Linked DNA regions of Homo sapiens. The protein of the gene in region 1 purifies or fractionates together with the protein of each later gene. This does not show direct contact. Each region holds a gene or a part of one and is shown in the gene's direction. Other genes may lie near its edges. The genes, in order: CD1E, C1QL1, ITGA7 and LMAN2L.

The links.
Region 2: the proteins of CD1E (region 1) and C1QL1 purify together in Homo sapiens (affinity purification with mass spectrometry; 2 studies listed by BioGRID and IntAct, with this or other methods). This does not show direct contact.
Region 3: the proteins of CD1E (region 1) and ITGA7 purify together in Homo sapiens (affinity purification with mass spectrometry; 2 studies listed by BioGRID and IntAct, with this or other methods). This does not show direct contact.
Region 4: the proteins of CD1E (region 1) and LMAN2L purify together in Homo sapiens (affinity purification with mass spectrometry; 2 studies listed by BioGRID and IntAct, with this or other methods). This does not show direct contact.

Annotation. Positions count from the first base shown.
Region 1 is NC_000001.11:158,349,507-158,356,896, forward strand, and holds the start of CD1E (T-cell surface glycoprotein CD1e, membrane-associated isoform a precursor), read left to right. Parts: upstream 1-4,387; 5' UTR 4,388-4,482; coding exon 4,483-4,540; intron 4,541-4,870; coding exon 4,871-5,167; intron 5,168-5,793; coding exon 5,794-6,063; intron 6,064-6,320; coding exon 6,321-6,599; intron 6,600-6,991; coding exon 6,992-7,085; intron 7,086-7,221; coding exon 7,222-7,390. UniProt on the Homo sapiens protein: T-cell surface glycoprotein CD1e, soluble binds diacetylated lipids, including phosphatidyl inositides and diacylated sulfoglycolipids, and is required for the presentation of glycolipid antigens on the cell surface. The membrane-associated form is not active.
Region 2 is NC_000017.11:44,959,173-44,965,306, reverse strand, and holds the end of C1QL1 (C1q-related factor precursor), read left to right. Parts: intron 1-4,939; coding exon 4,940-5,119; 3' UTR 5,120-5,614; downstream 5,615-6,134. UniProt on the Homo sapiens protein: May regulate the number of excitatory synapses that are formed on hippocampus neurons. Has no effect on inhibitory synapses.
Region 3 is NC_000012.12:55,704,896-55,712,855, reverse strand, and holds the start of ITGA7 (integrin alpha-7 isoform 2 precursor), read left to right. Parts: upstream 1-4,951; 5' UTR 4,952-5,173; coding exon 5,174-5,379; intron 5,380-7,960. UniProt on the Homo sapiens protein: Integrin alpha-7/beta-1 is the primary laminin receptor on skeletal myoblasts and adult myofibers.
Region 4 is NC_000002.12:96,730,059-96,737,081, reverse strand, and holds part of LMAN2L (VIP36-like protein isoform 2 precursor), read left to right. Parts: intron 1-2,555; coding exon 2,556-2,673; intron 2,674-3,480; coding exon 3,481-3,563; intron 3,564-7,023. UniProt on the Homo sapiens protein: May be involved in the regulation of export from the endoplasmic reticulum of a subset of glycoproteins. May function as a regulator of ERGIC-53.

The DNA of each region.
Region 1 (7,390 bases):
CAAGGTCTGTGAGGACTGCCAGCACGCTGTCACCTCTCAATGCCACTGCACTCCAGCCTGGGTGACAGAGTGAGAATCCGTCTCAAAAAGAAAAAAAAAAGAAAAAATGTAACTATGTGAAGTGATGGATATGGTAATAACTTGACTGTGGCGATTACTTCACAGTATATACATATATCATAACATCATGTTGTGCACCTTAAGTATACCCAATTTAAAAAAAATTAAGGTAGAATATAAATATATAATTTATCATCTTCACCATTTTAAAATGTACAGCTCAGTGGCAATAAATACTTTTTTATACTCAATTTTTATTTGTTGGTTGTACCTCACTAAAGCTGAAAAATATATTTGAATAAATGTTAAAGAAATGTAAGTATACACAAACAAGAAAATAAGTATGTAGAAATTGCAATCTTTCCTGAAAATAAGCCAAAAGAATAAAACTCGTATTTAAATTCTTTGAAAAAAAATTAGCAGATGGAACATTTTCTTACATTTGTACAAATGTACTCAAAAATTTTATTTTAAATCAATTTTAATGAGTTATCTCCCATAAATTTCTTACATAGAAAGATTAAGTTGTCCAAAGGCACATCTTATAATATGTTTTGAGAGAATTTTCTGGTTTTGGCAAAAGGGGATCTGCGAATGTGACTGGGGCAGCCTCAGGAAAACATAAGAGGGGGAATTTCTTTTTAAAAGAGACCTCTGGCCACAGACACTAAGTATTTTTAGTAAAAAATGTGGTTAGGCACTGATGGAATATTTTTTTTTTTTTTTTTTTTGAGACGGAGTCTTTCTCTGTTGCCCAGGCTGGAGTGCAGTGGCACAATCTTGGCTCACTGCAACCTCTGCCTCCCAGGTTCAAGCGATTCTCTTGCCTCAGCTTCTCGAATAGCTGGGACCATAGGCACGTGCCACCACGCCCTGCTAATTTTTTTGTATTTTTAGTAGAGAGGGGTTTCACCGTGTTAGCCAGGATGGTCTCGATCTCCTGACCTCCTGATCTGCCTGCCTCGGCCTCCCAAAGTGCTGGGATTACAGGAGTGAGCCACTGTGCCTGGCCCACTGATGGAATTTTGTAAAGCAGGAAGGAAATAATTGTACCATATAATGTTACAAAAATTAAAATTAATATATATTTTTTCTTTGGAATTTATCTTCTGGATAATTTTAATTTAGAAGGAATTTCATTATTTTGTTAATGATTATGGGGTTGCTGTCAGACATTATTTCTACTTTGCTCAGTAATTTGCAGTTATCTGTGAGTTCTGTAGCCTCAAAATTAAAAACTAGGGTGTGGTTATCTTTACTTACATAAAAGTGCAATTTTTTGTGGAATAACAACATTGTTTTATTCTCTAAATATACTTTGCTTTATTTTACTTTGCAAATGATTTTAAAATTCTCCCTCTTTTTTTTTTTTTTGAAACAGAGTCACACTCTCCTGCCCAGGATGTAGTACAGTGGCACAATCTCAGTTCCCTGCAATCTCCACCTCCTAGGCTCAAGCAATTCTCCTGCCTCAGCCTCCTGAGTAGCTGGAATTACAGGCACACATCATGGCACCTGGCTAATTTTTACTTTTTTTGGTAGAGACAGGGTTTCGCCATGTTGGCAAGGCTGGTCTCGAATTCGCCTGCCTTGGCTTCCCAAAGTGCTGGGATTACGGGTGTGAGCCACCGTGCCTGGCCTGATTCAAAAATTCTAATGGCCGGGGCACGGTTGCTCACGCCTGTAATCTCAGCACTTTGGGAGGCCGAGGCGGGTGGATCACGAGGTCAGGAGATCGAGACCGTCTTGGTCAACATGAAGAAACCCTGTCTCTACTAAAAATACAAAAAATAGATGGTCATGGTGGCTCTTGCCTGTAATCCCAGCTGCTCAGGAGGCTGAGGCAGGAGAGTCGTTTGAACCAGGGATTCGGGGGTTGCAATGAGCCGAGATCCTGTGGCTGCACTGCAGCCTGGGCAACAGAGCAAGACAGCAAGACTCCGTCTCAGGAAAAAACAAAACAAAACAAAAATTCTAAGGAATACAGTTACTTGTAGTATTGATGTTTGGCATAGGTCATTCCAATCTTTTTATTATGTATTATTGTTTTTGTAGGTTATTATATATTCTCTTGAATATTTATCTTTGTTTACTGTTCATAATTTTATTATGAAACCAATTTTGGATTTACATAGCGATTTATAGATAGATTTACATAGCAACTTATAGCTTTGAATGTATTTGTAGAAAAGAAAGAGTATTGAAAATAAATGTAGACATTCTACTCAGGAAACAAGGAAACTTTTTTTAATCTTTCTTTAACCTTAGAATTTAGAAATGATAATAAGATGAAACTAGGTTTGGACCTTTTTCTTTTGTTTTTTTGTTTGCAGTTTTTTTTTCTTTTTTTAATTATTTTTATTTATTTATTTATTTTTTATTATTATACTTTAAGTTCTAGGGTACATGTGCACAACGTGAAGGTTTGTTACATATGTATACATGTGTCGTGTTGGTGTGCTGCACCCATTAACTCGTCATTTACATTAGGTATATCTCTTAATGCTATCCCTCCCCCCTCCCCCCACCCCACAACAGGCCCCGGTGTGTGATGTTCCTCTTCCTGTGTCCATGTGTTCTCATTGTTCAATTCCCACCTATGAGTGAGAACATGCGGTGTTTGGTTTTTTGTCCTTGTGATAGTTTGCTGAGAATGATGGTTTCCAGCTTCATCCATGTCCCTACAAAGGACATGAACTCATCATTTTTTATGGCTGCATAGTATTTCATGGTGTATATGTGCCACATTTTCTTAATCCAGTCTATCATTGTTGGACATTTGGGTTGGTTCCAAGTCTTTGTTATTGTGAATAGTGCCACAATAAACATACGTGTGCATGTGTCTTTATAGCAACATGATTTATAATCCTTTGTGTATATACCCAGTAATGGGATGGCTGGGTCAAATGGTATTTCTAGTTCTAGATCCCTGAGGAATCGCCACCCTGACTTCCACAATGGTTGAACTAGTTTACAGTCCCACCAACAGTGTAAAAGTGTTCCTATTTCTCCACATCCTCTCCAGCACCTCTCCAGCACAGAAAGAGTATTGAAAATAAATGTAGATATTCTACTCAGGAAACAAGGAAACTTTTTATCTTTCTTTTAACTTAGAATTTAGAAATGATAATAAGATGAAACTAGGTTTGGACCTTTTTCAATAATTCTGACCACCGTTCAGTAAATTTACTGTATAAGAAAAGTAGAGGTTTGGGGTTGAATTTTGTTTTATTTTTTCCCAAAGATGTCTATCTCTGATATCTTAGGGCCTGGCAATTGTTTTTGGTCATAGGTGGGCTCTGAATAAATGTCAGTTGAACAAATATATAAAAACCAAACAAAGGAATGTTATTTCAACTGCCTTCAGAGTGTCACAACAAATATCAATGAAAAAGAAACAAAAATAAAGACTCAATTAATTCTCCAGTGAACACTTCAGTCCTCTAAAGGTACTTCCCTGTGTCCACCCAAACTGCTCTCTAACCGAACGCAAGCAAGGGGACTCCAATGCTCTCAGGCCATGAACTAATGAGGAGCTTCATGCCTGCCCTCAGTCTTTCTTCATACCCAGGGCAAAGCTGGCCCACAGACTTCCAGACATGCTTTCTTCGTTTGGGTAGAGATGGGGATCCAAGTCCCCTATGTATTTCCTCCAGAGCCACCTGTAAAACATGGGTGAAATCTACCTGCCCTCTAGCTCACCACTTCCAGGTCAAGCCCACTCATGGACCACTTTAACAGTGACAGTTGGCTTGACTGGGGAAACTGAAAAAAAGGAGCTTTCTTTAGATTTTCTGATAATCTGCATTGCCATTGCTGCTCCTTTTTCAGCAGCACAGAGAGTTGGATTATGGAGGGTTGCCTGCTTATTATGCAGCTACATCCAGGATGCTGAGTGTCTTCTGATCATGATCAAGAGCAGAGTGAAGAGATACAGGCGGAGGAGAGGATCACAGAGAGGTAGAAGTGGGAGACTGGTGGATAGGTCACTAGGCACCACTGAGTGACTACCATCACTTCTCACAGATTAGATTATTGACAAGCCAAGTATGGATTTGATTTCTACAAGGCCAAAAGCTACTCCATCTTCTAGCCAGACCACAGACTTTGTTTTAAGCCAGGACTCGTTTTCCAGCAGTTAGTGCAATTAGGGAGGTTGGGAGGATGTACACAAGAGCAGGGAGAAAATCTGGAGCCAGACAGTGAGAGAGGCAGAGGGGAAATGAAAAACCCCGTGGGAGGCTGCAGCAAAGCGAGGCAGTGTGGCTTCTCTGACAGGGAAGTCAGCAGAGGGAGAGGTTTGTCTGTCTGTACAGCAAGGGAAGTCAGACGAGAGTGCAAGAGGGTGTGGAGAGGGGTACTGATATCTGAATTATTAGGGCAGGTGTCCTGCCAAGGAATCCCTCCTTTAACAGAGCTTCAATGCTGCTCCTGTTCCTCCTCTTCGAGGGTCTCTGCTGTCCTGGGGAAAATACAGCAGGTAAGAAGAGTGCAGGTGGAAAGATACCTATGGTAGGGCACCAGAGGGCTGAGAGGAAGCTCTGGGGAGGTCCTGGGGGAAGGGAGCAGTACTCTTCTAGGATGCCCTTGGAATATGCCTTTCAGGCTAGTTCCAGGCAGAGAATTCTTGCTCTCAGTCTCAGTTTTTGTCTCTGATTTTGGAGAAAGGAAGCTGGCCCCACAGGAAAAGGGTATTGGAGTATGTACAAGCTACCTAACTGTCTCTCATCTCTGGGTTCCTTTTTTCCCTTTGGCATCACTTTTCCCATCCCTTTACATTCTCTCTACTTGTCATTTCCCTCTCTCTCAGCTCCCCAGGCTCTACAATCCTATCATCTAGCAGCAGAGGAGCAGCTGTCCTTCCGCATGCTCCAAACTTCCTCCTTTGCCAACCACAGCTGGGCACACAGTGAGGGCTCAGGATGGCTGGGTGACCTGCAGACTCATGGCTGGGACACTGTCTTGGGCACCATCCGCTTTCTGAAGCCCTGGTCCCATGGAAACTTCAGCAAGCAGGAGCTGAAAAACTTACAGTCACTGTTCCAGTTATACTTCCATAGTTTTATCCAGATAGTGCAAGCTTCTGCTGGTCAATTTCAGCTTGAATGTAAGTTCGTTGCTCTAAGCTGATAATTTGCCTGGGAACACCAACTATTTTCCAAAGTGGAAGATAGTATATAGACTCTGACCATCATTTAACCTTACTAACCTTGTTCCCCACTCTCTGACTCCCACTCCCTCCTCTGCTTCACCCTTCACCACCACCCACACTCCACCATATACACAAAAGGGCCTGCATGTACATATCTCAACATGAATATAGCTTCATGTCTGGCTCTTTGGAATGATTGTCTCCTCTGGATCTTCTGCCCCTCATTCCTGCCCTCAGACTCAGCCTTTCTCAACCCTCTTTCTGCCCTTCTTTATCCTTTGCCTGAGTGTTGACATGGACTGGCCTGTACCTAACCACTTTCACGTGAATTATTTATGACCAATCTCCTATCTTCCTGATAGCCTTCCCATCTACCACTTTCCCATTAGTTATTTCAAAGTATCTTTATTATCTTCAAATTTTCTTCCCACAAATTTTCTTCCCCTTTGCCAGTAAACTCTAGTCTCCATATGATTTCCCAGCAAATTTTTCTTCCCTTGAATCTCTTTACTGTCTAAATTGTTTGTTTTTCTTCCTTGTCATTCTTTCCATAATGATCTCTCTTCCCTGTCCACTCTCAGACCCCTTCGAGATCCAGATATTAGCTGGCTGTAGAATGAATGCCCCACAAATCTTCTTAAATATGGCATATCAAGGGTCAGATTTCCTGAGTTTCCAAGGAATTTCCTGGGAGCCATCTCCAGGAGCAGGGATCCGGGCCCAGAACATCTGTAAAGTGCTCAATCGCTACCTAGATATTAAGGAAATACTGCAAAGCCTTCTTGGTCACACCTGCCCTCGATTTCTAGCGGGGCTCATGGAAGCAGGGGAGTCAGAACTGAAACGGAAAGGTGAGCCCAACTCTCTCTCTCCCCTCTTGTTCCTAGTACTATAACTCTCATATTTGAATTTGCCTCTCATCATCATTTTGAAAGACATAGTGAGAGACTAGAGAATGAGATGTGTGGGTTCAGGACTGTTTCTTAGACAAGAGAAAGAAGTGATTACTAAATCACTCTTAGTATTATTACAAAGGCACCTGAGTCTCTGAGCTCTGGCCTGGGGTGCCCTTCAAAATTCCATTTTTTTTCTATCTTCTTCTTCCTAGTGAAGCCAGAGGCCTGGCTGTCCTGTGGCCCCAGTCCTGGCCCTGGCCGTCTGCAGCTTGTGTGCCATGTCTCAGGATTCTACCCAAAGCCCGTGTGGGTGATGTGGATGCGGGGTGAGCAGGAGCAGCGGGGCACTCAGCGAGGGGACGTCCTGCCTAATGCTGACGAGACATGGTATCTCCGAGCAACCCTGGATGTGGCGGCTGGGGAGGCAGCTGGCCTGTCCTGTCGGGTGAAACACAGCAGTCTAGGGGGCCATGATCTAATCATCCATTGGGGTGAGAAACAGCTGAGGCTCTGCTGGGAAATAATGAAAATAGCCCTGGGGCTTTTGAGTGTGGGGCTGAGGAAATGGGTAGGAATGCTAGGTACAAGAAGGGTAAAACTGGGACAATCAAAATAAAGAAGGATAGAGTATGACAGTAGTTAAATTTTAAGAAAATGGAAGTAGAGAATTAGACATACTAACAGAAAAAGGAGGAGGAACTAGTGATTTAGTGGGAGAGGGTTGGGAGGAGATCACAGACAAAGGATCAGGAGGAATTGAAATGAGGGCTTTGGAAAACCCAGATGAAAATTCTAGGAAGGTCCCACCCTTGTGAAATGGGAAATCTCAGCTTGGTGGAATAGAGTATTTTAGGGTTGGTATTCTTATTCTATCCCCAACCAGGTGGATATTCCATCTTTCTCATCCTGATCTGTTTGACTGTGATAGTTACCCTGGTCATATTGGTTGTAGTTGACTCACGGTTAAAAAAACAGAGGTGAGCTTTTTCTTGTTCTTTGTTTCTTCAGCCTGTAATCAATTCATTCCTTTTTCCTCTATCTTCTTTTTTTTTTTCTCTGCCTTTCCCCTTTATTTCCTTTCTTTGAGATTAATATCCTCCTCTTTTCCCACAGTTCAAATAAGAACATTCTTTCTCCCCACACACCCAGCCCTGTCTTTCTCATGGGAGCCAACACTCAGGACACCAAGAATTCAAGACATCAGTTCTGCTTGGCACAAGTATCGTGGATCAAAAACAGAGTATTGAAGAAGTGGAAGACACGCCTAAACCAACTCTGGTGA
Region 2 (6,134 bases), on another chromosome or scaffold:
GGCACGGTGGCTCACGCCTGTAATCCCAGCACTTTGGGAGGCCGAGGCAAGTGGATCATGAGGTCAGGAGATCAAGACCATCCTGGCTAACACGGTGAAACCCCATCTCTACTAAAAATACAAAAAATTAGCTGGGCGTGGTGGCAGGCACCTGTAGTCCCAGCTACTTGGGAGGCTAAGGCGGGAGAATGGCGTGAACCCGGGAGGCGGAGCTTGCAGTGAGCTGAGATCGCGCCACTGCACTACAGCCTGGGTGACAGAGCGAGACTCCGTCTCAAAAAAAAAAAAAAATACAAACATTAGCTGGGCGTGATGGTGCATACCTGTAATCCCAGTTAGTCAGGAGGCTGAGGCAAGAGAATAACTTGAACCCAGGAGGCAGAGGTTGCAATGAGGTGAGATCTCGCCACTGTACTCTAGCCTGGGCAACAGAGTGAGACTCTGTCTCAAAAAAAAAAGAAAAGAAAAGAAAAGATAAAAACGAAAAGAAAAGAAAACCAGGAGAAATAGTGGGGCCCGTAGCCCCCTCTCCCATGTCCTTTATGACTTCTTCCAAATTGCCCAAGAGACTCATTTGATCTCACTAGCCATCCCACTTGTTAGTTTTGAGCCCCTACTAGGAGCCAGATTTGAGGCTTTGTAGGAGTTCAGTCCACTTGCCCTCCAAGACCTCATGGCCTATGCAGGGGGAACATTCATAACATACAACCACACGCCCCAGCGAATACTGTGTTAAAGGTGGGCTGGGAGCCCAGCTGATGACTTTGGTCCCCAAATGTGTTGGCTGGGAGGGAGTGCTTCAGTAGGGCCTACCCTGGTGCAGACCAACCTGATGCAGGGGGAGAAGATGGTGAACCTTGGTCTGCAAAGTGAGGAGATACCACAAGGGAGAATATAAAAGGTCAAGTGTAGGGGAAAGCCAGCTCAGAGGTGGACAAGGACATTTAAATAAGCAGAGAAAAAAATGGCAGGACCAGACAATGTATGGGAACAAAAGAGAGAAGCTTGTATCTCTTGTGACTTCAGAACCAGGGGCCACCCTGAGCACTGCGCTTTTCCTTCCTGGCTTCCTGCCTGTAGAGAGGCTTCCAGAATTTCTTTAGGGAGGCAGAGCTGAATCTGGGCTCTGCCTCCTCTCCGGGCAAGTTCGGGATGGGGAGCACCACCTTCATGCCTGGCACTGAGGCTCCCTCTGTCCTTATCTGAGGCCCACTGGCCCCAGTCCTTAGGGGTAGCCTTGCATCAGCACCCCTGATGGCACCAAGTCCTGGCCATTAGGATGCAAGGAGCCTGGGGAAAGGACTCTGGGTTGGCAGTGGGGCCCTGGGTGTGGTGAGTTGCCTGCAGCTGCCTCCAAGATCCACAGTTCAGGTGGGTTGGAGAGGACACAAAATTAATAAACTGGGCAGGGGGCTTTGTGAGGATGTGCCAGGGCCTGTGGTCAGGGTGCTGCTTATCCAGGGTAGGAGGCTGTGGGGAGGTGAGTATCACCAATGGGCCAGGGGTTTGACAACAGAATCTGAGTGTGGCGAGAGGTGCTGGCATATATAAATTGAAGGTGGTGGTATAAAGACCTAAGAAGGCTGTGCACAGTGGCTCACGCCTGTAATCCCAGCACTTTGGGAGGCTGAGGCGGGCGGATCACCAGAGGTCAGGAGTTCGAGACCAGCCTGTCTAACATGGTGAAACCCTGTCTCTACTAAAAATACAAAAAAACATAGCCGGGTGTGGTGGTGGGTGCCTGTAATTCCAGTTACTCGGGAGGCTGAGGTAGGAGAATCACTTGAACCTGGGAAGTGGAAGTTGCAGTGAGCCAAGATCGCACCACTGCACTCCATCCTGGGTGACAGAGCAAGACTCTGTCTCAAAAAAGAAAAAAGACCTAAGGAGATCAGCCTCTCCCCTGGTGGTGGCAGATGGCCCCCTGGCTATCCTTTCTGGCCCCTAATACCTTTCACAACACAGAGCACAGTGCCTGGCACAGTGGGAATGCAGTTAATGTATGTATGAAAATGCAAGTGTCCCCCATGGGCCAGGCTGGCTCCCCTATGGGAGCCACATCTGTACACCCAAGACCCCAGCATTGATCTGAGGGCAGGAACGTGTTTCCTGGATGCCCTCTCACCCAGTTCCCTTGGTCAGACCATTGCCTCAGTTTCCCCTCCTGGCAGCCCTTGAGGAGCTGATTATACAGCGCTCCCTCATAACAAGGCCCAAACCTGCTTTCCTGCTTCCTTGGCAACCTCATTTCCCCACACTTCCCCTTGGACCCCAGGAGGAGCTGCAGGCCTCAACTGTCTCCAGTCAGGCAGAGAATTGGGACCCCTGGGTTCCATTCTTGGATCCCCCACCATCTAAGGATGGAAGGGCATAAATTCTCTCTGCCTCCATGGATAATTAGGATAATTACGGCAACAATCATGGTGATGAATAAATAATAAACATAAGCATAACAGTTCTGATGCAGTCACATCACCAGGAGATTCCTGATGACAGATGACTCTGTTCCAATGGATTTGGCTATTAAGGAGCACACTGTTTTAATGAGTTAAGGCTAAATTAATCTGGGCAATAAAAATAATTGTTATTAGTAGTAATTTATTAGCAAAGATAATGAAATGCATGTGTAATAATAAATATTACCAGGATTAGGGCTCAGGGAACAATACAGAAGTTGGCTGTTTGCTTTCAGCTCTTCCCTAATAACTCAAAGCCCCATCAAGATCTAATGTTTTTTTTTCTTTATCATCAAAAGACTTTTACAGAGGTGGCAGTGGTGAGGCAAAGTCTTCTCATCCATTTTCTAGACAGAGAAACTGAGCTCCTTGGCAGACAGCATCTCCCCCTTCATTTATTCCCTCCCACCTTTAACTAGACCAGTTTTCCCAGCTAAGCACACAAAGAGTTTCTTCTCAGGTTGGGAAGAAGAGGTTGAGGGAAAAGAAGGGGCTGGAGAAGGGCTTTAAAGGGAGGCCCTCATGCAAATATGTCGGGTCCTCTTCATTGCAGCATCGCGGCTGAGTCAGCAGCTCTGGCACAGCTGACCTGCAGTGCTGCCTCCAGCCCAGGAGAGAGGATGGGCCCCTCCCCTAATTTGGCTTGGTTCTACCCAGACTTCAGCCCTGGGAGTTGGGATGGTAAGCTGCCTTCAGTGAAGGGACAGGATAGAGAGGGGCCGTGGAGAAACCTGGCTGAGAGAACTCCACTCAGTGCAGCCTCCCCACACCACAAGCCACAGTCCTGGAGAGGGCGCTTCTCTTCCATGTCTCTACCCAGGATACCCTGGAGAGGCCCCGATCCTCAAACTCAGGACTTATGTTTCCATACCTGTTAGCTGAATGTCTGTAGATCATTCGTTCACCACCACACAATCTCTCTCTCTCTCTCTCTCTCTCTTTTTTTTTTTTTTTTTTTGAGACGGAGTCTCGCTCTGTCGCCCAGGCCGGACTGCGGACTGCAGTGGCGCAATCTCGGCTCACTGCAAGCTCCGCTTCCCGGGTTCACGCCATTCTCCTGCCTCAGCCTCCCCAGTAGCTGGGACTACAGGCGCCCGCCACCGCGCCCGGCTAATTTTTTGTATTTTTAGTAGAGACGGGGTTTCACCTTGTTAGCCAGGATGGTCTCGATCTCCTGACCTCATGATCCACCCGCCTCGGCCTCCCAAAGTGCTGGGATTACAGGCGTGAGCCACCGCGCCTGGCCTTTTTTTTTTTTTGAGACTGAGTCTCACTATGTCGCCCAGGCTGGAGCGCAGTGGCATGATCTCGGCTCACTGCAGCCTCCATTTCCCAGGTTCAAGTGATTCTCCTGCCTCAGCCTCCCCAGGAGCTGGGATTACAGGCGTGCCACTATGCCTAGCTAATTTTTGTATTTTTAGTAGAGATGGGGGTCTCACCATATTGGCCAGGCTGTTCTCGAACTCCTGACCTCAAATGATCCACCTGCCTGGGCCTCCCAAAGTGCTGGGATCACAGGCATGAGCCACCGTATGCAGCCACCACACAATCTCTTATGATTATAGTCAGAGCCCCCAAAAGTGACGGCAGGCTCCAAGCCCAAATGCTGGTGCTCCCTTGACCCATTATCCTGCCTGTCCCTCCCCATCCCCCATCAAGGCAGGGACCAGCAAGGATGTCACATCAGACTGAGAATCCCAGAGGGAAGTAAGGCCTGGATTCCCTTCTTCCCACCCAGTTCCTTTCTACCACCCTGAGGTGAGACAGGAGGAGCTACAATCCTCTTTGGGTGGGTAGTGACAGGTACATAGCTACAGCTCCATGGAGGCTGGCACCCAGGCCCCTTCTAAACTCTGGGAGGGGAAAGCATTACCAGGCCTTCTGTCTCACTGCTGCAGCAGGAGAGACTCTGGAATGCACTTCAGACCAAAGACCTGGCCCTGGTTCCAGGGTGGTTGCTGACTGGCAGCCTGGCATTGGTCCAGCTGCCTGACCTGTGGGGCCAAGGTGTGCCCTTGTGTCCATCCACTGACATAAGATCCAGCGGGTGTGGCTGAAACGATGGCATCATTATGAAAGCAGAGAGGAAGGAATGATGAGAGTAGGGAAGGCCCTCCATTCCCTGGAGGTCCAGAGAATTCCTCTTTGCAAGGACAGGCTTCCAGGCTTCCTGGAGGTATTGAGGTTCTCAGCCAGCTGGAGGGAAAGCCCTATAAGAGTTAAGGAGGAAGACTCTGCCTTGACTCCCAATTCAGGCCCAGATCAGACCTGCCCTAGAAATCCAGGGATCCTCTCTGCCCCTTTCCTGAAACAAGTCCTGTATGATTGGAAGGGGGCGGGGGAGGGGGAGCGTGGCAGGGATGAGGCGAGGCTGGAGGCCAGGTTTCTGGGTCTGCTGATCCTCCCCCACGGGACTGCCTCACCTCCCTCCCTTCTCATCCTCTCTCTCCTCTCGCCCTCCCTCCCGTGTCCCCCACCCGCAGGTGCGGGCCAGTGCTATTGCCCAGGACGCGGACCAGAACTACGACTACGCCAGCAACAGCGTGATCCTGCACCTGGACGCCGGCGACGAGGTCTTCATCAAGCTGGATGGAGGCAAAGCACACGGCGGCAACAGCAACAAATACAGCACGTTCTCTGGCTTCATCATCTACTCCGACTGAGCTCCCCACGTCTCCCTCCACCCACGTCCCTCACCCGCCGGGGTCCCCTCCGGGCGGGGCAGACGATGACTCGCCCCTCGCCCACCCGCTCGCTGCCCGGCCCTCCCCGGCTATGACGCCCCCGGCCCGTGCTCAACACCGCCTGGGCCACAGCTAGGCCCTCCCACCGGCTCGCTGCAGAGCCGGGCCCAGCGCGCCCTGTCCCCGTGCCAGGGAACCGGGGTTGACCGCCCCCGCCCAGCCCGCGCTATATATTTGTACAATAGGACTGTTTACTGCCCACCTCCGCCTGCCAGCCCACCCCAGCCTGGGGAGAGGTCGCGGCGGCGGGTTTGCTTCCTGCGCTCTGAGATGAGCTGCCCTCCGCTCCCTCCGGGGTGGCGCGCCCGGGGGAGGGGGGAGTTGGGGGCTGGATAGCTTCCCAGCACCCTCAGAGCCCCCGCCCGGCTGTGCCCCGTCTGACCAAAGTTATAATAAAAACATTTTCACCCCGCAGGGGTTTCAGTCTGTGCCCTGGGGAGGGCTGCGGGAGGCGACGGTGGACCGTGCCCTCCTCCAGATTAGGAAGGGGTCTGGTGGAAGTTTCTAGGGGAAACCAGGTGCCAGAGCCAGAGCTACTCCAAGAAGAAGTTGCCAAAGGGCCTAAAGCCCACCACAACCCAAGTGGGCCTGGGCAGCTGGGATGGGAAGCAGCCCAGTTACTTCATCATCTTCCATGGTGGACACATTCCTTTTTTTTTTTTTTTTTTTTTTAGACGGAGTCTCGCTCTGTTGCCAGGCTGGAGTGCAATGGCAAGATCTCGGCTCCCTGCAACCTCCGCCTCCCGGGTTCAAGCGATTCTCCTGCCTCAGCCTCCCGAGTAGCTGGGAATACAGGCGCACACCACCACGCCCAGCTAATTTTTGTATTTTTAGTAGAGATGGGGTTTCACCATGTTGGCCAGGCTGGTCTCAATCTCCTGACCTCATGATCCGCCTGCCTCAGCCTCCCAAAGTGCTGGGATTACAGGCGGGA
Region 3 (7,960 bases), on another chromosome or scaffold:
GCTGTTCCTTTGCCCTAGAGCTGAGCAGAGGACATGGGGTATCTGTATCTAGTGTCCCCATCTGATCTCTCTAGGGTTATCCTCCATCTGTTCTTTTTCTGGGCCTTTATTGTTCACTGTCTAACCTTAGTTTCTGCTGCAGTTGAAGCTCAGCTTCACTTGTCCTTGGTAGAGATGGACACAAGTCGCATACATATCTATCTGGAGAATGACTCTTGAAATTTGAAGTCTCTTTCTGCTCACCTCTCCTTACGATTTCCTACTCAGATTATTTTCCCTTGGACTGAATGAATGCAACTCCACACTCCTTTCTTCACTCATTTCCCTCTTCTTTTGAGGTCTCTTTCAGAGTTAGCTTTAATTAGCAAGCTCCAAACTGACTGGCTGGGCCAAACAGGGCTGGAAGCTGCTGAGTTGTTAGGGGTTGGATGAGGGCTGAGGGAGGACACAGAGTGAGTAGACAAGGCTTCACATACTGGGAGATCTGGCTGGGCTTCAAGAGAGGGGGTTGGTGGTGGTGTGGCTAAGTTCCAAATGTTGGCCTGAAGCCAGTGCTCAAAGAAAGGGGGCCCTTGAGACAGTCCAAATGGCTCCCTTTGGTAAGTGACCTCCCAGTCCTTCTCAAGTGTTAAGGGTTTCTTTTGGATCGTCAAAGACCGGAGCGGTCAAGCTGTTTCCCCACTGAATTCCCTCAATCACATTTATGTTCTTTTCCTCCCAGCCACTCCCATGGTTCAAGCTTTGACTACAACCAGAATTCAGAGGCAGGCAGAAGGATTCCAGTGCTGGAGAGGTGAGTGAAGTAAAAAAGTTCTCATGGTGTGCATGTTGGGACGGAAAAGCCTGACCTTGGGACATAAGCTCCAAGGCTCTGTTGCCAGATGAGGTGGAGGGAGAAGTTAGCCCTGAAGTGTGTGTTCTGGAAGTGTTTGCTTGTAAGCTAGAGACAACAGTTGCAAAAAGTGTGATTTGAGGGAGCTGAAAAATACTGATCTCAAAGTGGGGAAGAAGATGTTGAAAAGGGAAGGAGCTGGAGAAAGCCTCAGCTTCCACTCATACAAAAGCTAAAGGGCTAAAATCTTGGCTGGATCTGGACATTTCTCAACGTCTAAAATTTTGGAAATTTTTATAAAGATTATTAATCTTTCATTTTTACATTTAATTTATTTAAAAAGTTCAGTTTCTCAGTCATACTAGCCACATTTCTTTTTCTTTTTCTTTTTTTTTGAGACAGAGTCTCACTCTGTTGCCCAGGCTGAAGTACAGTGTATTAATCTATTCCATGGAGTGGAGTGGATAATCTATTCCATGGATTATCATTTTACTTTGTTAGTGGTATCCTTAGAAGCACAAAATTTTTAAATTTTTTTTTTTTTTTGAGGCAGAGTCTCACTGTGTCCCCCAGGCTGGAGTGCAGTGGTGCTATCTCTGCTCACTGCAGGCTCCGCCTTCTGGGTTCAAGCGATTCTTGTGCCTCAGCCTCCTGAGTAGCTGGGATTACAGGTGTGTACCACCACGCCCAGCTGATTTTTGTATTTTTAGTAGAGATGGGTTTTTGTCATATTGGCCAGGCTGGTCTCAAACTCCTGACCTCAAGTGATCCACCTCCCTCCCTCCCAAAGTGCTGGGATTACCATGTCTGGCTTGGAAATTATTTTGAAATAATTATAGATCAGAGGAAGTTGTAAAAATAGCACATGAAGTCTTGTGTACCTTTCACTCAGTTTCCCCTAATGGTGACATCTTATGTAACTGTAGCATAAAATCAAAACCAAAAAGTTGATATTGGTACAGTATTGTTAACTGGCCTGCAGACCTCACTCAGTTTTCACCATTTTTTACATGCATTTATTTGTTTGTTTGTAGTTCTGTGCAGTTTTATATCTTGTATAGATTTGGATAATCACCACCACAATCAAGATACAAAACCCATCACCACAAAGGAACCCCCTTGTGCTATTCCTTTATGTTTGTCCCCACCCCCCTCCATCCTTGTCCCCTGGCAGCCAGTAATCTGGTCTTCATTTCTATAGTTTTGTCATTTTGAGAATGGTATGCGAGTGGAATAATACAGTTTCAGCATTTTTTGTTTGGAGACAGGGTCTCACTCTATCACCCAGGCTGGAGTGCAGTGGCAAGATCATGGCTCACTGCAGCCTTCACCTCCTGGGCTCAAGTGACACTCCCGCCTAGCCTCCTGAGTAGCTGGGACCACAGATTTGGCTAACTTTTCTATTTTTTGTAGAGATGGGGGTCTCCCTATGTTGCCCAGGCTGGTCTCCAACTCCTGGGCTCAAGTGATCCTCCTGCCTTGGCCTCTCAAAGTGCTGGGATTGCAGGCATGAGCCACTGTGCCCAGCTCAGCATTAATTTTTAATTTAACTAATTCCTAAGCTCTTGACTGAAATACAAGAAGTTCTCTAACAGTTTATTTATTTTAATATTGAGCTTACCGCATTCTCTGGATCCTTCTAGTTTCTTTTTTTTTTCTTTTTTTCTGATGTGGAGTCTCTGTCACCCAGGCTGGAGTGCAGTGGTGCCATCTCAGCTCACTGCAACCTCCGTCTCCTGGGTTTAAGTGATTCTTGTGCCTCAGTCTCTGGAGTAGCTGGGATTACAGGTACCCGCCACCACACCCGGCTAATTTTTGTATTTTTAGTAGAGACAGGGTTTCACCGTGTTGGTCCGGCTGGTCTTGAACTTCTGATCTCAGGTGATCCGCCTGCTTCGGCCTCCCAAAGTGCTGGGATTATAGGCGTGAGCCACCGCGCCCGGCCCCGTCTAGTTTCTTAATTTCCCTCTTCACCTACGATATTATCTTCCACTCCAACATTCTGGTCTCATTTCTCCTTGAGAGAAATCTACATGTCTAAATTTACTAGGCTGGTCTAGCACGCTCTTGTGTGTTCCCCTCCCTCCTTTGCCCCTCTATTTATAGCCAGGCTAATTTTGGGTGGCCTCTCTCTCTCTTCTTTCCTGATCTTTCCTCCTGTGGTGGTGAGGTGACTTCTCAAATATTTGGAGAGAGGAGGTCAGAAGCAGATTCTTGGCATCTGATTTCAGCCCTGGATCACAGAAGCCAGTGGAGTGGGAATGGAGACAGGCAGAAGCTGCAGGTGCAGATAGGAGGCAGCTTGGGCTCTAAAGGCATTTTGAGCTGGGTCGGGGGCGGGGGGACCTGGGCAGGGAGTCAGTAGTCCCAGTTCTGTCCTAATTTTGCAATTCTGCATTCCCATGTCAGCTCTTCTCTACTGTCTGGGGCTCTGAGATATTAAAAAGGATGGGGAGGGCATGGTGAAAGTAGAATCCTGGTGCCAGCCCTGCTGACAGCATATGTATTTCCTTATAGTACCTGTTTAGAGATGTGTTAGTGCTCTGGAGGGGATAGCCACAGGTGTAGTATTGGAAAACAGAGGGCCAGACTTCCAAATGTCTGTTAACTTATCCAAGGCAAAGACTGTCCCAGGGCAGCAGAGTAAGAACCCACTTTTTTTTTGTTTTCAAAGAAGTATAATCCTGAACAATGAAGTAGGAAAGACAGAACACAGGAAGAGGAAGGAGGTAGGACACTTATTGGAACTTTTAAGAAAGGGAAAGAGAAGAAAGAATCGTAAGAATATGATAGTGTTTGAAGGGCAGAGACAACACTAGAAACATTGAGAAATACTCTGAGAAAGATTCCAAGTGTGGCAGAGACAAGAATGATGACAAAATAGAATTTGGGATGAGACAAAATCAGATAGTGAGAGAGAGAAGGGAAGATGGACAGATGTATATTCACAAGACCAACACCAGTAAGCAAGGGGAGTAGGAAGGGGAAGTGGGAGCATTCGAGGTTCCCATTATGCCAAATTATTTCCTGTCTCTCCTTCTGGCCCCATTTCTGTATCGGAGTTATAAATAGCAGAGAGTTGGAAAGTGTCCCCCCACCCCCTTGCCTCTGTCCCAGCCTGAGGGAAAGGGAGAGGAAGAGGGACAGGCCAATGGGTCCCTGTGGAGATCCCATCTCAGCCCCACCCAGGTCCTGCTGAGCCAGTCCAGGACTCTGCCCCCTCCCATCCCCTTTCATGGATAGGAAATGTGCAGTCCTGGGACGGGTCTGGTAGCTGGGGACACCCTTTACATCCCTCTGCCTCTTGGGTCCAGTCTCTTTCATCTTTGCCTTCTTTGACACCCACTCCCCTCCCCACTGCTTAATTTCCTCTTCCTGTAATCATCCCCAGTCGTTTTCTTTTCTCCCTTCATTCCATCCCTTGTCAATTAATCTCTTGCCCTTCTTTCTTCCTCTCTATTCCTTTCCTTTTTCCATTTCTCCATTTGCTCCCCGTATCTCCCGAGTTTCTCTCTCTCTTCTTGCCTCTTTTTCTCTGTTCCCTTGAATCCTGACGATGTGGCTAGCACTGCTGTGGTCATTGCCGGGCTGGGGGCGGGGGATGGGATAGGATGGGGGAGGGCAGCGGTCTGATCCCAACAGCAGAAAGAGTGCTCTATGTGACCATGGGGGAACAGGGAGCACTAAGATGCCACGCTGCACCCAGGCCCAGGACGGCTCCCCTTTCATTTCCTCTCTATCTGCACATCTCTCTTCCCAGGTTGTCTTTTAGCGTCTTCCCAACTTCTCATCTCTTACCCTCCTTCCTCTGTTTCAGCCCCTCTCTTTCTATCTGTACTTCTCTCCCTCCGCATTCCAAGGCGCCGCCTCCACCACTCCCGGGGTGGGGATGGGGTTGGGGGAGAAGGGGAGGAGAGCGCCGCGCAGGGGCGGAGCCGGAGACGGTGCTGGGCTTGGGGGGCGTGGTGGTGGGGGGTCAGCAAGGCTAGTTTCCATCCCAGCCACCAGCCTGGGCATCCCCTTGGAGACGGGCTTGGGTCTCCACCTGCCGCGGGAGCGAGGGGCGGGGCCGGAGGCGGGGCCTGAGTGGCGTCCCCGGGAGAGGAGGCGGGAGCCGGAGTGGGCGCCGGAGCTGCGGCTGCTGTAGTTGTCCTAGCCGGTGCTGGGGCGGCGGGGTGGCGGAGCGGCGGGCGGGCGGGAGGGCTGGCGGGGCGAACGTCTGGGAGACGTCTGAAAGACCAACGAGACTTTGGAGACCAGAGACGCGCCTGGGGGGACCTGGGGCTTGGGGCGTGCGAGATTTCCCTTGCATTCGCTGGGAGCTCGCGCAGGGATCGTCCCATGGCCGGGGCTCGGAGCCGCGACCCTTGGGGGGCCTCCGGGATTTGCTACCTTTTTGGCTCCCTGCTCGTCGAACTGCTCTTCTCACGGGCTGTCGCCTTCAATCTGGACGTGATGGGTGCCTTGCGCAAGGAGGGCGAGCCAGGCAGCCTCTTCGGCTTCTCTGTGGCCCTGCACCGGCAGTTGCAGCCCCGACCCCAGAGCTGGTGAGTCACCGCACCCGCCCAGAGTCGCCATGCCCGAGCCACAGATCGTCCCCCTCCCCACTCTGTGGGCCTCCTCATTTCTCTGTTTTCTAGCCCCACCAAGACCTAGACTGCCCACAGACATCCCACATCCCAACCTGGAGCCTTGCCTCATCTGGCTTGCGTCTGAAGCTGCACTTCCCGGCCCTGAGACCAGTATTTTGCTTTAGGGATGAGTTGGAAAGCAAGGTTCTTGTCTTGGCAGCGAACCATCTCCTTCTTCTGGGCCTTTCCCCCAACTTGCATCCTTGATCCAGCCCCAGGGCCTCTGGCTCCCCTGCTTCTTCCAAGGGCTGAATTCCCCAAGGGAGGGAGACTGTCTGTCTCTGCTTAGAATGGGAGGAGATGGAAAGGACATAGAAGTTGAGGGTGCCATGAGAGGGATGCATGCAGGGCAGACTCCAGAAATAACTTCCTGCTAGAGCATTGCCATGGATGGAATGAGGGCAGCAGGGCACTGGAAGGCCAGGAGAGAGCTTCCACTTCTGTGGCTTAAGACCACGGGAAGATTGGGAGAGGATCTGCAGGTCTGCCAACCTGCAGTAGGTGGCTTGGTGATAGAGAGTGGCAGCAAACTGAACCCTCAAAGTACTAGTAGCAGTAGTAGTAGCCGCAGCAGCTGTAGCAGTGAGAGAGATCCAGGAAGGATGCTGGCCAGGCTGCTCCCCTTCCTCCTCCTTAGCAAATTTCCAACTCCAGGAATCTCAGCAGCTGGGAAGGGCCAGGAGGAGTAAGGGGTGGAGGACAATTCTAATTTTTTCTAATCAGTTCAGGACCCATGGGAGATGGATATACTTTTGTGAGGGGCCTGTGACTGGTCATGTTGCCTGTATCCTTGGCTCTTGCTACATGTCTGATTGTAAAAAGGGAGGCCAGAGGTGAAGAAAGCTTCTCACCTGCTCCTGCTAGGGGGCTTTTCTCTCTTCAACCAGTGCCTAAGCCACATTAAGTATCCATTACTGGGATCAATGCTGTCCACTGGGACTGTCTTCTGCCTCTACTGTCGGTCTGGGGGCAGGGGGCAGGGACAAGAGCTCATTTCTCCTCACTTGCTTGGGGAGTGGGGGCCTAGCTCTAATCTTTCTTCTTCCATTATCCCTATCATCTGGTAGCAGGGTCGGTGGTCCCCAAAACTTTGGGAGAGATAGAAAGCAACGGACTTCATCTCCTCTTCTGTTTACCATCTGCTTCCTCATTCACCTTTGCTCCCTCCCTCCCTTCCTCCCTCCTTCTCCATCTGTCAGAGTTCGAGGACTGGAGGCCTTTTTAGGACATGCTGAACTCTCTAAGCTATTTCCAGGCAAATTCTAGGTTATTTTTAATAGCTTGGTCTCTTGTCATTTCCCCCTCCTCTCTGAAGGTGGCCCCTGGTTCCGTCTCCCAGAGCCAAGCTGGGGCCTTTCCCAGAGGGCCTGACTGCCTCACCCTGCTTTTGCTCCAGCAGGGGGTGCTCTGCTGCTGGGGGGCGGGGGGTATGTGAGAGGCCAGGCACCTGCTCAGTCCCTAGCTTTTGAGTTGCAGGTGGCCTGCCTTAGCACTCACTGATGAAAAAAACTTCTTGCCTGTTTTGATGTCTTTTAGTCTAGCTCTGGGATGAGACTTTAAGGTCTAACCTTTGCTGTGTGGTTCCAGCCTCATTTACTTCCCTCAACTGTAAAAAGGATATAAACATAGTATTACTACATAGGGTTGTTGTGCAGATTAAGAGTTCTTAATATATATAAAATGCTTAGAATAGTGCATAGCCCGCAGTGAGTGCTGTGAAGTGTTAGTAGTATTGCTATTCTTGTATTGTGATTCACAGAGCGCCTTACAGAGATTCTGGATCCAAAGGCTTGGCTAGAGGGCCTCCCTGGCTGAGCCAGCCTTCCAGGCCAAGCATCCTCCCCAGAGGGCCACCCAGATTGAGAGGGGCCAAAGAGGGGCTGGACTTGGGCTGGGGCCCTGGAGTGTGTGGAGAATCGAGAAGTGCAGTGGTCGTGGGCTACTCCTTTGTCTTCACTTAGCTGAGCTCCCAGGGGGTCCCTCTGCCCCCCAGCTGCCAACACTTTTTTTTTTTTTTTTTTGCTTTTCTCTCTGCAGTGGCTACACTGTGGCTGTCCAGAAGACTGGGGTGGTTAGGGCGTATGGCATGAAGCCAGGAAGGAGTGTGTGTGGCTGGACCAGAGGTGGAGGGACTAGAGAGGATGCTGCTGGGTGCTCTTGTTCCACTAAGGATCGATTGGTCTCTTCTCCACCAAGAGCGGACTGGGCATATCTATGCACTCAGCTTCTTTCTTCCACATGGGCCCCTCCCCTCCTCCCTACTTTTGGCCTCCAGAGGAGATGTGAACATAGAACAAGGATAACTTATCTGGGTGCTTAGCTATGCACTGACCAGCTGTGACACTGGGTATCTCTATGAGTCCACAAAATGTGTGTGTTCAGTAAACACATTCTGACACTCCCTATGGGGCAAGCACAAAGATGAAAAGACAGCCCCGACACTCAGAGAGATGGCCACTTCTATGTTTGGAGGCTGGGGGTACTGCTGACTTGCCTG
Region 4 (7,023 bases), on another chromosome or scaffold:
TTTACTTTTGGGCATGACTCTGGCATCCTTTGATACTTTCTCTGGAATTCTCTTAAACTAAGAACTTACTTTTTTACGTGGCTTTTCTCATTAGTTGTAGATAAGCGAATCTCAGAAAAGAGAACGATTTCTTTTCCCTGTTCAGGAGGGCAAGAGAAATTTCTACATTAGCTATCTGCACAAACTGGCCCCTTAACCTAGATCATAGTGCCGAGCTCATTTTTGGACAGAGTACAGAGCATTGTGTTTTCGTAGCAGAGATAAAGGACAGTTGAAAGACTGGGATTCTCGGTCCAGCTCTGTCACAGTCCTCCTGTGAGCCCTAGGCAGATTATTTAACTTCTTAGTTCTGTTTCTCTATCTGATAAATGAGCTTCAGAATACCTGTTTTACTTGCCCACTGGGGTTGTCGTGAGAATAAAATAGGACAATAGACATGAAAAGACTGTGGCAAGTTAAAATGGTTATAGAAATATGTGTTATGTTATTACACTTCTACAGGTTTGTTGATGGGGCTCTTGTGGGTTACCGGATGATTATGTTCAAGGCTTGATACTCTGCTGCTGTCTTGCTGGCTGTCTGTCTCTACATAACTTGTAGCAGCAGTTCTAGTATAGCCTCTAGTTCTTCCCTTTTTCGACTTCTGATACCTGTATTCGCTGTTATCTGGCTATCACCATGACTATGGGCTTGTTTCTGAGTTATTTGAATAGGATGCATTTGTTTCAGCAGTGGTTCTCAAATTTGGCTATCCATTGGAATCAATGCCTGGGTCTCATCCCCAGAGATTCTGATCTAATTGGAATAGGGTGCAGCTTGGCCATTGGGATTTTTTAAAACTCCGTAGGTGAATCCAGTGTGTGGCAGAATTTCAGAACCACAATTAGACATGGTCCTGAGCAAAACAGTATAGCATTGTGCTGTAGGAGGCCAGGAATCAGTGACAGACACCTCTTGGCTCACTGGGAACTTCTGTGACTCTGCCCTCTTCCCAGGGGCATAATACCTACCTCCTGGCAGCTTCCTGCCCCACTGAATTTCACTCTTTCTCTGAAAGCTATTTTTTTGAAACAGGGTCTCATCACTCTGTCGCCTAGGCTGGAGTGCAGTGGCACTATCACAGCTCACTGCAGCCTGGACCTCCTGGGCTCAAATGATCCTCCACCAAAGCCTCTCAAAATGCTTTGATTACTGGCGTGAACTACTGTGCCTGGCCTTTCTCTGAAATCTTTTTTTTTTTTTTTGAGATGGAGTCTCGCTCTGTCGCCCAGGCTGGAGTGTAGTGGCATGATCTCAGCTCACTGCAAGCTCTGCCTCCTGGGTTCACGCCATTCTCCTGCCTCAGCCTCCTGAGTAGCTAGGACTCCAGGCGCCCACCACCACACCGGCTAATTTTTTGTATTTTTTAGTAGAGACGGGGTTTCACCGTGTTAGCCAGGATGGTCTCGATCTCCTGACCTTGTGATCTGCCCACCTCAGCCTCCCAAAGTGCTGGGATTACAGGCGTGAGCCACCGCGCTGGGCCGTTTCTCTGAAATCGTAATGAAACAGCAGAGAGATAAGAATCCAGAGTGACAAGACAGAGACTGGCTCAATAGAGTAGGAGATTTCAGGCCCCTTGCTCAATGCAGGAGTACCCAATCCCCTTTCATTTTGACTGTGTACTTCTAATATGAACACTGTTGGAAAATATCCCAGAAATAAAGAATGAAAACTGAAAATGATCTAGCAATAGTTGCCCAGAACAGTCTATTTGGAGAGCCTTTGGCTGAACCCAGCTGGTCTGTCTGTTCTTCCTTCACTTCTTTCTTCACAGTAGACTTTTAACCAGAAGCTTCCCTAAATCAACTACCCACTCTGGTTTTTTCTTGAAACCGTTCAACTATTTAAAACACTTAACCATCCACTTGCATCCATCTTCAAGTGCATTTAAGCTTCTTGGCCATGGACGGGAGGGTTTGGGGACTGTAACTTGCTCTTCTTGTGAGAATTCTGGCTTACCCCTCAGCTTGGCAGAGGGCCAGGTCTAGCTAATTAGAGTTGTTTGTAGTATCTGCTAATTATTCCTGGAAACGTTTGCATAACAGCTTAGCTTTTCTTTTTCTACTGTAATAAATTAGGCTTTGACCTTTCTTTAAATCCAGCTTTTCAGAGTCTTTCTGTCTGAGGGGTGATCTTGAGTTGTAAATGAGTATGAATTCAGCCATCTGTACTCTAAAAGCCGAGCTACTTTGCTGGGTGGGTGTAGGATCACAGGAGTGGAGTTTGGTACACTCTTGTCTTTTCCAACTTTGGAGTTCTGTCCTGTTTCTGTTGGGAAATGTTGAAGATAATCGGGAGGTTTATTCATTTTCATATTAAATCTCTAAACAGTTGAATGGTTCAATCCGTTTAATTTTATGACATGAACACATAGCAAGTCTTAGATTTAAGTTTTAACCCTTAGTCTAGTGTTACCTGCATTTGTGTTTTCCAAGTCTGTTGATTGCTGATGTGGGCTTGAGGGGTTTTGCATTTCATGCTCCTCATTGATTCTAATGTCTTTCTCACTTTAGCCATGTTTCCTGAGAGACTGGGAGTTGCAGGTGCACTTCAAAATCCATGGACAAGGAAAGAAGAATCTGCATGGGGATGGCTTGGCAATCTGGTACACAAAGGATCGGATGCAGCCAGGTATTGGGAGCCTGTGTTACTCTTGTGTGGGTGTGACAGCCTGATTTTTCATGTGCCCTCTTTTTGAAAAGGTTCCTTCCCCACAGTGCCAGCTGTTTTCCCTCTCCCTTAATGTATGTGGATGAACACTGGCCCTTCTAGTCTCTAGAACGGGTCTGAGTCCTCATAAGCAGCTGAATTTGACTCATCCTGAGGCAGTTGCTTGCTTGTTACTTCTTTCTGAGTTTCCTTGTGAAACTACCTGGCCTGTTGGCTGGATGAAAGCACTGGCTCTCCTGAACGCTGACGATTGGGTGAGCTGATTTCTTCTGAACATTTACAGTGAATGATCTCAGCACTGCTGAGTCAAGAGAAGAGTTATCTATTTTCCTTGTGTTAGAGCTATTATTGCTCCATGTAGATGGCAGGCTCAACCTGATTTGACCTGATCTCTTTTGCAACAAGAAGGAGAACTAGGGAATTCAGTTCTCTCTTGGGGGCATAGTCTTTACCAATTGTTTGTAAAGCAGAATTCTGTAGGGGCACCTTAGCAACCAGTTTGGATCAGGAAGCTGCCTGAGTGCTAAATAAGGTTGCAGTGGCCTTCTCTCTTTCCCTTGCCTCCAACAACAAACAATTACAGATATTTACTGGGCACTTGTTACAGGCCATGCACTTTGCTGGGTACTTTTAAACATGTGTTTTCTCATCTTGAGAGAGGCTTGGGAGTCATTTGAATTTTACTTTTTCCTCCATCATAGTGATATATTATTCCTTTATCAACTCTTAGCTTTATTTCATTGTTCATCATCTGTTCTCTCTCTCTAGGGCCTGTGTTTGGAAACATGGACAAATTTGTGGGGCTGGGAGTATTTGTAGACACCTACCCCAATGAGGAGAAGCAGCAAGAGGTAATGGCAAGTGTCAGAGCCTAGGTCAGCTACACTGACATCACAGTTCTTTGCCTCAGGAATGTTGTACAGGAGGGAACAAAGGAGATAGAAAGTGAGGGGTTCTTCATCTGTTGAACTTTGAAAGTTAATGTCCTTGTCAGTGTTTTTTTCTAAAGGGACTATTTAGGAGTGCACAGTCTTTTGGGAATAGCTGTCTTGAACAGGGGCTTTTTCTTTAGTGATAATCATGTTCTCTCTTGTGCCTATTAGATAGCCACTAAAATTGAGCATGTTTGGTTGATTGGTGATTTGGCTGCTAGACCAGCACCAGAGCAAGCTGAATTTACGTAACTCAGCCTCCCCTGACTTTTAATCCATCAGTGCTGTGCTCTCTTCTGCAACTTGCACACACTTTTCAGCTTCTTTTTCTTCTTCTTCTTCTCAGACCTGAAGAACAGTTCTCCTCGCCTATAGAAAAGGCTATAATTGGCCAGGTGTGGTGGCTAACACCTGTAAGCCCAGCACTTTGGGAGGCCGAGGTGGGCAGATCACCTGAGGTCAGGAGTTCGAGACCAGCTTTGCCAACATGGTGAAACCCCGTCTCTACTAAATATATAAAAATTAGATGGGTGTGGTGGTGGGTGCCTGTAATCCCACCTACTCGGGAGGCTGAGGCAAGAGAATCACACCATTGCACTCCCCCCTGGGCAGCAGAGTGAGACTCTTGTCTCAAAAAAAAAAAAAAGAAAGAAAGAAAAGGCTATAACGAGAAGGAAACTGATGAAAGCCCAGCATTTTGTTGGAACCTAGTATCTGGCTGTTGGCAGGCCTTTTTGTTACCTGACCTAAGAGTTTTTTAGTGCTTTCTTTTTTTTTTTTAATTTTTTTTTTTTGAGACAGAGTCTCACTCTGTCGCCCAGGCTGGAGTGCAGTGGCGCGATCTCGGCTCACTGCAACCTCTGCCTCCCAGGTTCAAGCTATTCTTCTGCCTCAGCCTCCCGCGTAGCTGGGACTACAGGCGCATGCCACCACACCCAGCTAACTTTTGTATTTTTAGTAGAGACGGGGTTTCACCATGTTGGTCAGGATGGTCTCGAACCCCTGACCTCGTGATCCGCCTGTCTCGGCCTCCCAAAGTGCTGGGATTACAGGCGTGAGTCACCATGCCCGGCTATTGCTTTCTTATATTGACAGTGGGTTTGTACTCTCTCTATGTCCTACGGCACTGCCATCAGATGGTGGGAAATTATGACAGGTTGTTGCTGGGTATCCTGTAGCTAAGTACCTAGCGAGGAAATCAGGATTAGAAATAGAGGCAAAGGTCACATTATTTTTTTCCTCAAAGGTTTATTATGAAAATTTTCAAACTTAAAAAACATTAGAAGGCCAGGCATGGTGGCTCACGCCTGTAATCCCAGCACTTTGGGAGGCCGAGGTGGGCAGATTACTTGAGGTTAGCAGTTTGAGACCAGCCTGGCCAACATTATGAAACCCTGTCTCCACTAAAAATACAAAAATTAGTATTTTTATTAGTATTAGTGTTAACCTGTAGTCCCAGCTACTTGGGAGGCTGAGGTGGGAGAGTCACTTGAACCTGGGAGGTGGAGGTTGCAGTGAGCTGAGACCACGCCATTGCACTGCAGCCTGTAATCCCAGCTACTCAGGTTGCTGAGTCAGGAGAATGGCTTGAACCCAGGAGGCGGAGGTTGCAGTGAGCTGAGATCACACCACTGCACTCCAGCCTGGGCAACAGAGCAAGACTGTCACCAAAATAAACAAAAAAAATTAGAAGAATAGAGAATGATCATTGTATCTGTGATGCTTAGATTCAACAGCTGTTAACATTTCCCACAGAACTCACTTTTTATTTTTTATTTTTTTTATTTTTTGAGATGGAGTCTCGCTCGTCTCCAGGCTGGAGTGCAGTGGTGCAATCTCGGCTCACTGCAACCTACATACACCTCCTGGGTTCAAGCCATTCTCCTGCCTCAGCCTCCTGAGTAGCTGGGATTATAGGCACACGCCACCACGCCCAGCTAATTTTTGTATTTTTAGAGACAAGGTTTCACCATGTTGGCCAGGATGGTCTCCATCTCCTGACCTCAGGTGATTCCTCCACCCTGGCCTCCCAAAGTGGTGGGGTTACAGGTATGAGCCACTGTGCCCAGCGAGCTCACTTTAAAGGTGGTGGAATGTGAGACCTGAGTTAGGAGAATAACCTTTTGTTGTGGATCAGTTACAGCTGCTTCTCTGTGTTCCTTCTGGGCTGTTCTTCATTCCACATACATTAACCACTTTCTAGGTGCCAGGCCCTGGGAATTAGTGAGCAAGATAACATGGTCCTTGTACTCAGTAGCACTGAGAATGCTGATGGGGGAACTCTGGGGCACTATGGGAGGACACAGCAGGAGCTTCTAACCTGAAGTGGGGCAGTAGTGTTGGTGGTAGTGGGGAAGGCTTCTTCCAGGAAGTGCCTTTTAGGTTGAGGTCTGCAGAGTAAGGAACCCGTGTCCCATGCAGAGGGAAAAAAGCCGAGGTCCTAAGGTTAAGAGAGGGGATGATGAGGCTGGGTGCAGTGGCTCATGCCTGTAATCCCAGCACTTTGGGAGGCCAAGGCGGGTGGATCACGAGGTCAGGAGACCGAGACTATCCTGGCCAACATGGCGAAACCCCGTCTCTACTAAAAATACAAAAATTAGTCAGGTGTGGTGGCATGCTTCTGTAGTCCCAGCTACTCAGGAGGCTGAGGCAGGAGAATCGCTTGAACCTGGAAGGTGGAGGTTGCAGTGTGAGCTGAGATCACGCCACTGCACTCCAGCCTGGGCGACAGAGTGAAACTCCATCTCAAAAAAAAGAGAGAGAGAGGGGATAATGAGTGTGTGGAAATAAAGTAGAATCAGAGACAGATGAGGCTAGAATGAAAAGCAGGGCCAGTAGTCTTGTTATGTTGCACAGTTCCTAGGGCTGCTGTTCACCTTGCATTCTACAATATTAACACTGTAGCCTCGGCATGTTAACTAGCCGCTGAGACTGACTGGCATCTGCTTGGGTGGTTGGTGGCTGAACTGTTTAGATGAGAGCCAGAGCAGACTGAATGTATGTGACTCATGCTCACCATATACCACTTGGGGCCAAGTTCTGAAGGATTGTGTTCCTGTTGAGGAGTCTGGACTTGATTCTGAAGGGGTAGGTACATTAAAGGATTTTATTGAAGAGAGGATCATGACTGGATTTGTAGTCATGCTGAGGAAATAGTGGTAGTTAGAAATGGATCTGAATAAGAGTTATCAGCTTTAGGGCCTGACAAGAGTTTTAAACTTGTCTCTCTGTTTCTTCCAGAAACAAATTGTTCAAACTCTGTTAGCTTCCATTTCACCATGAGATAGTAGTAATTCTGGTTTGAGAAAGTAGAAATTCTGACTTGGGTTTATTTTGTAAGGATTTTGTAGATGTTAATTAAAAAAAATTTATTTTAGAT